2 separate regions of the Homo sapiens genome follow, and region 1 is linked to region 2. A link means that fine-mapping ties the variant in region 2 to the expression of a gene that starts in the linked region. Tissue or cell type: whole blood. Region 2 holds a variant in brackets; the other region holds the start of a gene. All regions are shown on one strand. Distances are from middle to middle.

Evidence for each region. PIP is the estimated chance that this variant, and not a neighbour inherited with it, causes the effect.
Region 1: it holds the start of ARLN, and the variant in region 2 is the best candidate, but not a certain one, in a credible set for the expression of ARLN in whole blood (INTERVAL, PIP 0.72).

What each region holds. Positions count from the first base shown.
Region 1 is chr4:119,298,190-119,303,189 of GRCh38, forward strand. It overlaps ARLN (allregulin), which reads right to left and starts at 2,456. Exons shown (of 2, transcript NM_001001701.4): 1 at 2,147-2,456; 2 at 1-590. The coding sequence starts at 2,346. The coding sequence ends at 590. RefSeq lists enhancers at 2,050-2,099, 2,200-2,429.
Region 2 is chr4:119,244,208-119,249,475 of GRCh38, forward strand. USP53 (ubiquitin specific peptidase 53) reads left to right here. Exons shown (of 19, transcript NM_001371395.1): 6 at 1,130-1,222; 7 at 4,541-4,675. Among named protein-coding and RNA genes, the nearest start is that of USP53, 34 kb to the left of the region's middle. The variant C/A (reference allele first, on the strand shown) is at 2,871.

The sequences.
Region 1 (5,000 bases), 54 kb after region 2:
TTTGATATTACCTGCTTTTTCTAAGACTGTATCAACCTGTCGCCCACCCATAACCTATCTTTTCATAACAGAGTCCAACTAAACCTAAAAATTAAAACTGGAACCTAGCAGCTTCTACGCAATCTAAGAATACTTTGTTCCCTCTCTCAAAATCTTTCCCTGCTTTTGAATAATTGACTTTTGAATTCATAAAAACCTTCCCTTATTAATCATCCTATTACTTGCATCATAGTAAACCCTGATCAACTCTTAAAACATTAAAAGACATTACTATATTTCTTAATGAATACACAAGACCTTTAAGTACAAATGCTTTTATATTCAGCCCCTGTAAAGCCATCAGATGTTTGAAAGTTTTTAAACACGAACCAAAGGGTTTAATTTTAAGAACTTAGCTAGGAATGGGTGAAATCCTACCCAATTAATAGAGTTCTGCAAATTAGTAACAAAGTGTAAAATGAAAGGAAGGGTCCCTTGGAGATGTGAAATTCTTCTATTGAGAGTCCTGTCTTCTTTATTCAAGAAGTTTGTAGCCATTTTCAGAATTCACTCAAGAACCAACTTCTTAATTTAGATATCAGCGAACAAGTCTGTAAAAAGCAAGTATTTGTCAGCAATATGTGCTTTATCTTCCCAGTTTTTAACACTTTATGCCTATTTACATATTGATAAAAAGAAAAGCCTAGAACATTTCTTGTAAGGCCTCTATTTTCTATCCAGAGCTGAAAGTTCAGGTCATAAAAACACACACACACACAAAACCCACTGTATTTGAGATTATCAGTCTCTACCAAAACAGGGAGGGAGAGTAAAACTCTCCCTTTACAAATGGCTTGACAGAGAATTTTATAGAAATCCCTATCCCTTTTGCCATCCTCCCATTAATCCCTCTCGCTCCCCTGCCACCCCTTTTTTTGAGACAGGGTTTGCTTTGTCTCCCAGACTGGAGTATAGTGGCACGTTCACAGCTCACTGAAGCCTCGACCTCCCCAGCTCAAGCAATCCTCCTATTTCAGCTTCCCAAGTAGCTGGGACTACAGGCGTGAGCCACTGTGCCTGGCCCTCTCTGTCTTCTCTAACTTACTACACCATCCAAGAAATGAGACAGTGAGGCTTAAGACACCCAAATCTTGGTGAAAATATAGGATGGGGGTTGGGGGTGTAGAAGAAGTGACTGCCTATCAAGAAGTGAGAATTTCAGAAGTAACTCATAGGCATGGTGACTAAGGAGTTAACAGTGAGTGAACAATCAACTCCAAAGTCCAGGAGAGCTGTCTAGATGGGCTACACTGCTCTTCTCCCATAGGAGCCCTGTTTCATCTCACTGCTTCTCCTTAGCTTGTCTCTTAACACCATCTCCATTTGGTGTCTGCTTCCTCCTGCCCTATTCTCTTAAGTTCCCTTCCTTTACCCTCTGCCAGAATTGTCTTTTCAGAGCGAGTGGCGATGAAAATGGAGAGCATGGGTTTTACAAGTAAACTCTACAGAATTTTGTAACTTGGTGTTTTAGGATATGTGGATGTGTGTAAGAAAAGGGCAAAGTGTCTCAGGTTTCTGGGAGGTAACGGTGGATAAAGTTGGCGTTTACTGAAATGGTAACGCTGCAAGGCAAGTAAATTTGGGTAAGAAGCTGTTAAGAGTTCAGTTTTGGACATGTTTAGTTTGAGACAGCTGCGTGGTCTGCTCATGGTTAAACAGCTGTATAGTAAAAATAGCTTTCGTTGAGCACTTACTACTGCCAGGCAACATGCAAATCACTACGATCTCAATCTTCACTACACCCCTATGACCTGGGTTACTAATGGTCCCAAATGGCAGATGAAAAAATAAAGCTCCAAAAGGCGAAATAACTTCTCCGGTCGCTTCATGGTGCTGCAGGAACTCAAGCCTAGCTGGTTTCATTCCAAATCATGAGAAAATATGACGCCAAGTTTTCTCCACACTTCTTTGGAGACTCCCACGGACGTGCTAAAGAAGGACATTTTACTCCTAGTCCTTCTCCCCCACCCACCCGACTGCGCCACTCACCAGCTGTGTGATCTTGGACATATATAAACTCTCTGGAATTCAGTCCCCTCCCCGCCCAAAAGCGAGCAAATGATCTCTAAGCTCCTTACCACCCCAATTTTGCATTCGAGATACTCACCATGGCAAAAAATACACAAAGAGAAACACCACCACATCGAAAAGGATGAAAAGCCAGAGGTCCAACCAGTAGGAGTGTTTGGGAAGCCCATTTGCCCCAGACTGAGGCCTCACATCGAAGTTCTGCCTCCCTCCCTCGCTAAAGCCTCGCCGCTCCCGGAGACCATCTCGACCATCAACACCCGGTGCGTCCACCTCCATCTCGCTCCTGCAGCTTCGTAACAACCCTAGAAACCGAAAATGCTTAAGTTCCCGGACTTTGGTGTTCGCCGCACCGGAAACTGAGCGGAGTCCGGCCGCCTGCGCAGTGCGCCGCGCCCCGGGTTCCGGAATGCACTCTGAACCTACTCTTCCCAGCGCGCAGGCGCCTGGCTCGGCTTTCCGCTGCCTCCGTGACCGCTGGCATGAAGCGCGGCCTCCGCCTTGACACTAAGTCAATGGGCCCGCCTACTTCTGCCTCGCGGCGTCCCAGGCAGATAGCTGGTTATTCAGGTTTCGTTGGAAGAAATACGTTCTCGTCCCCCTGAAAGGCCCAGTCCAGTCAGGTGATGGACTCCTCCCTGAAACTGCACGAGGTCACCTCTCCTATCCCCGTATTCCGTTTGGATCCTTATGCCAACGTGTTAGGAAGGCCCCCTCTGGTGGGTTTTGTACTGTCTCTAGCATTTGACACTTAATATTTAAACACCACCAATGAGGTGGACGTCCTACTCACGGGACTGAGTTTCCAAACGGGCCAGAGAGCAGCACGTGAGCATTTTGCAGGTACTTCAAGGGAGTGGGTTTAAGAATAACCTGGCCGCGCCCCCCTGTAATCCCAGCACTTTGAGAGGCCGAGGCGGGCGGATCACCTGAGGTAAGGAGTTCGAGACCAGCCTGGCCAACATGCTGAAATCCCGTCTCTACTAAAAAAAAAAAAAAAAAAAAAAAAATCCAAAAATTAGCCGGGCGTGGTGGCAGGCGCCTGTAATCCCAGTTACTCGGGAGGCTGAGGCAGGAGAATCGCTTGAACCCGGGAGGCGGAGGTTGCAGTGAGCTGAGATCGTGCCACTATTGCACTCCAGCCTGGGCAACAGAGCGAGACTCCATCTGGGGGGAAATGGGGGTGGGAAGAATAACCCAAAGGTTATTTGACTTTGAGTGTGAGCCTCAGCAAGAACAGAATGCTAGCAGGAAGAAAATGACCTATACTGCCTGGATTTTACCTCGTGGGTCCAATTTCAAATATTCTCTTTCTTGTCACATTATGATTCCTGAATTGTTCAGAAAATAACGGGCACCCAGACATATAAGTGGTTCTCTTGGTGCATAGTAAATGGAGATAAGACTGTAGTTGTGTTTTTACAAAGTCATTAAATCGTCGTAAAACCTCTTTGAAGGGGCAGTACTCCATCTTATAGAATTAGGAAATGAGACACAAAAGGAGTGAATTGTCTAAGGTTACTAAAAAAATTATAAAGCCTAAAATTAACTCCAAATCCAGCACTCTTAAAGCTGTTCCATAGCTTCCTAACCTTGCTCCAATTTGCCTCCAAATCAATTGCCAGGTTTTAGAGACAAAGATAGTATACGACCTTTCAAGAAAAATGCTTTGTAGATTCTGGGATGAGAGGGCCATTACCTGAGAATTAATTAGATTGTGTGCTGTAATACAGATTGTCTGATGGTAGTAGACAAAAAGACCCTGGGCTTAAGTGGCATTGAATCTTTACAAAAATTAGGAAAGGCAAATAAACAATTGCCTCTACCAGAGATGGAAGCATTCTTCTCGCTGACAAGGTAGGATCAATTACTCCTAGTTATTGAAGTAGGATTGATAAAAAATTATTGAGATTATTAGTGTTGAAGAAGCATGACATAAACTGAACAGGTCTTGAAATGGTTTTAAACTTGTCTTTGGCCCAGAGTCACATGCTCATCATGAGGGGATGTTGACAGTATGATCTGTTCTAGAGTCAGGAACGTCTGCCAGACTTGGAAGAGCAACTAGTGCAAATAAGGAGGGGTTATTTAAACTAAATTCAGTTGAAAGATTCTATTTCCGACTTTACCCTTGTAAAAGTCCCACTGATTGTTGATTATTCCACATTACAGAAATGAGTTTAGAGTGTGTTATGGCTGATTTTGAACTACTGGCCTCAAGTGATCCTTCTGCCTCGACTTCCCAAAGTACTGGGATTACAGGCATGAGCCACCTTGCTCAGTTGGCATTTGCCATTATCAAAGCAATTTAAATTTTAAAAAGTACTGTACTGAAATCCAGGTTCACTGTCAGTCATGCAATACCTCGGCACTTGTCCAACCACCTTGAACTTTCTACTTCACATGTTCAACTGAAAAATATGCACCAGGGACTACAGATTGAATCATTGCACTGCAACCATGATCCAACACTTCCATAATTCTGTCAGCACAATTAATCTGATTGAGCTGGGGTGGAGAAGGTGGTGTATGAAAATGCTATAACCATCAGGCCAAAGACAGCTAAGTGTTTTTAAGAAGACGTTACAGATCTTCTGAACTTCAAGTGCAATAAGTTTTCAGGAGGGAGATGATGATGAATTTTGCTTTAACCTAAGGGATAATGCAAATTTTTCGTATGCAGCTCTCAAGCCAGTATATCCATGTGATAAAGCATCCTCATGATCATCCTAGGAATTAAATTAATTTTATAGAATAACCTCTCCAACAGTGGAGAATTTGGTTACTGTAATTTTCATCTGGAAATATATGTGTTTATCTTAAATTATTCTTTCTCATCTTAACTTTGTCTTTTCCTCCTTTTCAAGTTGAGTACCTGTCCTAGCAACAACCCTGTTGATTGGTACCACAGGTTATTTCTCCATCTTCTGGGT
Region 2 (5,268 bases):
ATTAAACATCATCAAGTGCTTTGCAAAAACACTGAGTTATCTGTGACAGAAAAATGGATCCTATTCATTATGCTTTAATAAAAGGCAACGTTTAAAGAGAAATTTTGAAATGACCTTTAGTTGTGGAGTAGTTGAAAATATAGGAAATATTAAAGCCAGTTTGTTTTTATTAACTTTTTGTTTTTATTTGGGAGAAAGGAGAGATCATGAATAGATTTTCTTAGTTACGTTATCTGAGGACACGACTAAAAGAGAAATTTGAAGATCTTATTTGTTTGTTGTAATAGTAGTAACAGCCACAAATAGCAGCTGGTACTCATTGCATGCCAGTTGAGTACCATACCCTGCTCTAGAAACATTACATATTATTTAATCCTTACAAGAACTCTATGAGACACAAGTACTATTCTTATCCTCATTGTCTAGAATTCAGGTTTTTCAGAATGATTTTAAGTATTGGACTGATTTGTTTTGACAGTTGCCGTCTTTGGGTTTGGTTTGTCTTTGTCTTTGCTTTGTCTTTGTCTTTTAGTAGCAGAAGATAAGTGGATAATTGCATCAAGTATATACTTAGGTAATTTATTAATGGCTGCTGCTTACTATGCTGTACCCCCATTACCACACAGGCCCCCTTTCTTGTTCCATGTACAGTGACCACATACACCTCTGCTCACCCCTTTTTCTTGCCATAATGTGCAGACCCCAATTTAGTACACTCTGGCTTTAAAGTCTAATTATATTTCCTTTCAAAATTTCAGTTTGTTCCAAGTATTATAATCACTTCCTCTTTCATGTCTCTGCCAACTTCTCTATTTAGTATTCCTTGTTTCCTGTTCAGACCAAATCCTTAATGAGGAGTTGGTTTTTCCCTGCTCCATGCTTGTCATAGTTTTTCATGTGCACCATTAAGAGTATCTTCTGAATCCAACTTTTATATATGCACAACATGCATGTAGCAATTTTATACTTGCTGTTATTTCCAGTGGTTATGTGTGTCTGATTATGTACAGGCAATTAAAAGAAGTTACTTGTTCGCCTTTTGCAATTTGTAAAATATCTAAATCTGTCTTTTGTTACAGTAAGAAAAATTTGTTTATTTCTTTTTCCTTAACATCTCCCTGTTTTTTAGGTTTTATGGCAATTGGATATATTCCGACGAAGCTTGCGGGTTTTGACTGGACATGTTTGTCAGGGAGATGCCTGTATATTTTGTGCATTGAAGGTAACCTTTTAATAGCTCTGAAAAACTACTATCAATTGTTCCTTCAAAAATTTAAGTTTGATATATTGGGTCAGTTTGTTGTAACTAAAGTTCACTGTCAGGTGATTAACAGTTTTGAAGATGAATTCTTAACAGTATGACTTATTCAGGTTTGTGTTTTCATTTTCCTCTTTTATATAAGGACAGTTAAAAATTAATATTCTAAGTAGTATAAAATTGTTAGGAACATTATCTTTTTCATTATTTTGCAATTATTCTTATTCATTTTAACAAATGTTTTTGGAGCTACTACTGAGTTCTGGGTACCAGTGTAGTTACTGAGGATACAGCAGTGAACAAAACTGATAAAAATCCCTCTTCTCATAGAGCTTGTATTCTTATAGAGGAGGAGACAATAATAAGAAAGCAAAATATTATAGAGTATGTTAGATGGTAATAGTTGTAACATTGGAAAAATACATCAGGGAAAGAAAATAGGGAGTGTTGTATAGGCAGGAAAGCCTCACTGAGAAACTGATATTTGAAATGACACCTTGAAGAGCCTTCCAGGTAGACAAAGAAACAGCAACTGCAAAGGCCTTGAGGTATGAGTATACCTGATATATTTAAGGAACACCAAGGAAATATGGGTGGCGATGGCAGGAGCTTTATGAGCAAGGAAGAGAGTGGTAGAAGGTGAGCTCTGAGGTGAGGGTAGCCGAGGTGGCTTTAAAACATGTCTGTGGATGCTTTTGCATGCTTCCTTATCCAAAATCTAATTCCTTGAATATAGGCTGGCCTTAATGACTGATTTCTGTCAAATAGACTATGGCAGAACTGAGGCTGCAAGCAAGATATCTGAGGTTAGGTTAGTTTAGAAAAGGTGATATAACTCTCACCCACCTCTGTCTCTTGAGTTGCTCATTCTTGGAAGTGAGCCACCATGATGAGGAAGCCAGGTGGCCATGCGGCAAGACCACGTGGAGACATTCTGGACACAGCTAGAGCTGAGTTCCCAGCCCACAGCCAGCATCAACTGCCAGACATGAAAGAGCGACCCTCAGATATTCCAGGTCCCAGCATTCAAACTGTCCAAAATGACTTCGAGTGGAGCAGAGACATGCTGTCCCCACCCAAATTGCAGATTTATGTAACTAAATTTTGGGGGTGGTTTATTTACAGAGCAATAAATAACTATAACAGGGGTTTAGATTGTGTAGGGCCTTATAGGCCTCTGTAAGGATCGTGGCTTTTTCTCTGAGTGATTTAGGGAGATGGGGCATTGTTTTGAGTGGAAGAGTGATACAGTCTGTTTTAACCAGATATAATATTTGAACTAGATCCCTGTGGCTGCTCTGCTGAGGAAAATAGAAGGAAGACAAAGAAACAGAGCATCCAGTATATATTAGCAACTCATTCGTGTCACTGAAATGTTTTGCCAGAGAACTTAAGATTTTGTTATACATTTTAGAGATAAATGTTTCATTTTTTTACATTCTTGAATATTCATAATGAACACATACACATAGACACACAGAATTTTTTTTTTTTAATGTATGTGCCTTAATTTCATTATGTTCCTGAAAAGGCTGTTTGAGTAAATCACCAAAGGAAGAAATTTTATATTCTCTTTTTTTAAGAACATGGCCAAATAGGGTTATTGTTAGGA[C/A]ATGAAGAATGAACCTAGATCACATTACAGTATCACATTTTATTTATTCCACAGTAAATTTTGAATGTTTTGTCTAATTGTAAAACCTAGGATTATTAATTTCCTAGACCAACTCTCTTGTAGCCCTGCACAGTCACCTGCCTCTTTCCTGTGCTTGCCTTCCTCTCCTCCCCTGTCAAAAACACACATAAACACATTGCATTTTAGCCAAACTGGGCTCTATTTCTCAGAGCTGATCCCCACCTCAAAGTCTTCTCATTGTTATTCCTTTTGTCTGGAATGCTTTTCTTCCAGATGTCCTCATGGCTAACACCCTTATTTCCTTTATGCCTCTCCTCAAATGTTACTTTTCCATTAGTGAGGCCTTCCCCGACTACCCTAGGTAAAAGGTAAGCTGCTTCCATCTGTAATATCCCTGGCATTCCTATCCCCGTTACACTGCTTTATTTTTCTCTCTTGTATCTATTTTTCTCTACTGTACTTATCACATTCTGATGTTATATAATTACTTCTTTGCCTTCTCATTACTATAACTAGAATATAGGCTCCATGTGGGCAGGGTTGTCATCCATTTTTCTAGGGTAGAACAATGCCTAACATATACGAGGGAGGCAAAAAATATATGTTGAATCAATGAGTGACAGTCTCGCATAGGATTAAAAATCTTAAACATTACCTGGAAGTTAATTGCCTAAATAAGAGATAAAATCTGAAAGTTATTTTTCATCTTTTACTATTCATAATTTTAGCTACTATAATGGCTAAAATAATTATAGTTCTGGGTATCTAATATCAGATGACATCTGTTTTTTTATTTCTTATTTTATTTATAAATTGTATTTTTTTGCTGTAGTGAAACAGATTTGTGAAATGTTTTCTTTGTATGTTGATCTTAAAAAAATATTTTTTTTTTGAGATGACATGACCCTTTGAGCTAACATGGGACTGAATGTGACCAATACTACTTTGGTGGGCTGTCATTGAAAACTTTTCTTTCTTCCATGTAAGATGATTGTCATAAAATTGGAATTTATTAAAATGTTTTTTCTTGCTTAAGTTTAATAAGGAAAATTGAAAATCATATTAACAACTATAATCTCATATTTCCAGTTTCTTAGGTTTAGATTAGAAACTGAATGATGTTTCCAGTTTCTTAATTTAGATTAGAAATACAGGTTGGGTATCTCTTGTCTGAAATGCTCAGGACCAGCAGTGTCCTCTGAGGGTGGGACCTGGGAACCCTATATGTTTAATTCTTGTGTCTGCTAACATTTGATTTAGAGGCTGGTGCAAACATTTCTACACTTGATGATACAAATAATTAATTTTTGTATGAAATTTTAGAGCAAAAGACTTCTGTATTATTTTCCGAAATACAGGTTGGGTATCTCTTGTCTGAAATGCTCAGGACCAGCAGTGTCCTCTGAGGGTGGGACCTGGGAACCCTACATGTTTAATTCTTGTGTCTGCTAACATTTGATTTAGAGGCTGGTGCAAACATTTCTACACTTGATGATACAAATAATTAATTTTTGTATGAAATTTTAGAGCAAAAGACTTCTGTATTATTTTCCAAGTATAGTGTTTTGAGTTTCTCTGTGTTGTAATGAAATTACTGAAATGTCGTTAAAGCTGGCATTAAACTTACTGATTTTCTTGTCGATTCCCAGACGATATTTGCACAGTTCCAACACAGTCGAGAAAAAGCACTTCCCTCAGATAACATAAGGCATGCTCTTGCAGAAAGTTTCAAAGATGAGCAGCGATTTCAACTTGGCCTTATGGATGATGCTGCGGAGTGCTTTGTAAGTGTTTCTGATATTCCTTAAGAAGTCAGGATAGTAGTTTTCATTCCTTAGATGGTACAAGTGTTGAGACAAATGAAACAAAAATTTAGAACAATAGAAAAATGTCAAAACTGTCCAGTAGATCCATATCTTACCCATCCTTCAAGCCTCAACTTCAATCCATCTGTGTTTTGTGTTGTACTTTTGGTTTTGATTATTTTTGTTGCTCTAATTTTTACTCTTAGGCTACTAAAATGTTTTAAAACTTAGTTGGAGCAATAAGCTTTGCTGAATATAAATGATATCACTTAAATCAGTGTTCTGCCACTATAGGGACCACATATGCAGCACATTCCCAGCAGTAATAGTTATCATTGCATGCAATGATTCTCACTGGGAGAGAAGGGGATTTTGGTGGGATTTTGGTGGGTAACAGGGGCAACAGCCTGTTACACACATTCCAGGTTGAAAATCACTGAGGTTGATGTTCTCAGGCTCTGTGTTACCACCATATTAGTAAGTAGAGCATTCCTTTGATCAGGTACATACTTTATACATGTAAAATAGGTATGTTAATTATTAAATGTCTCATTAATATTGATGTCACCTAT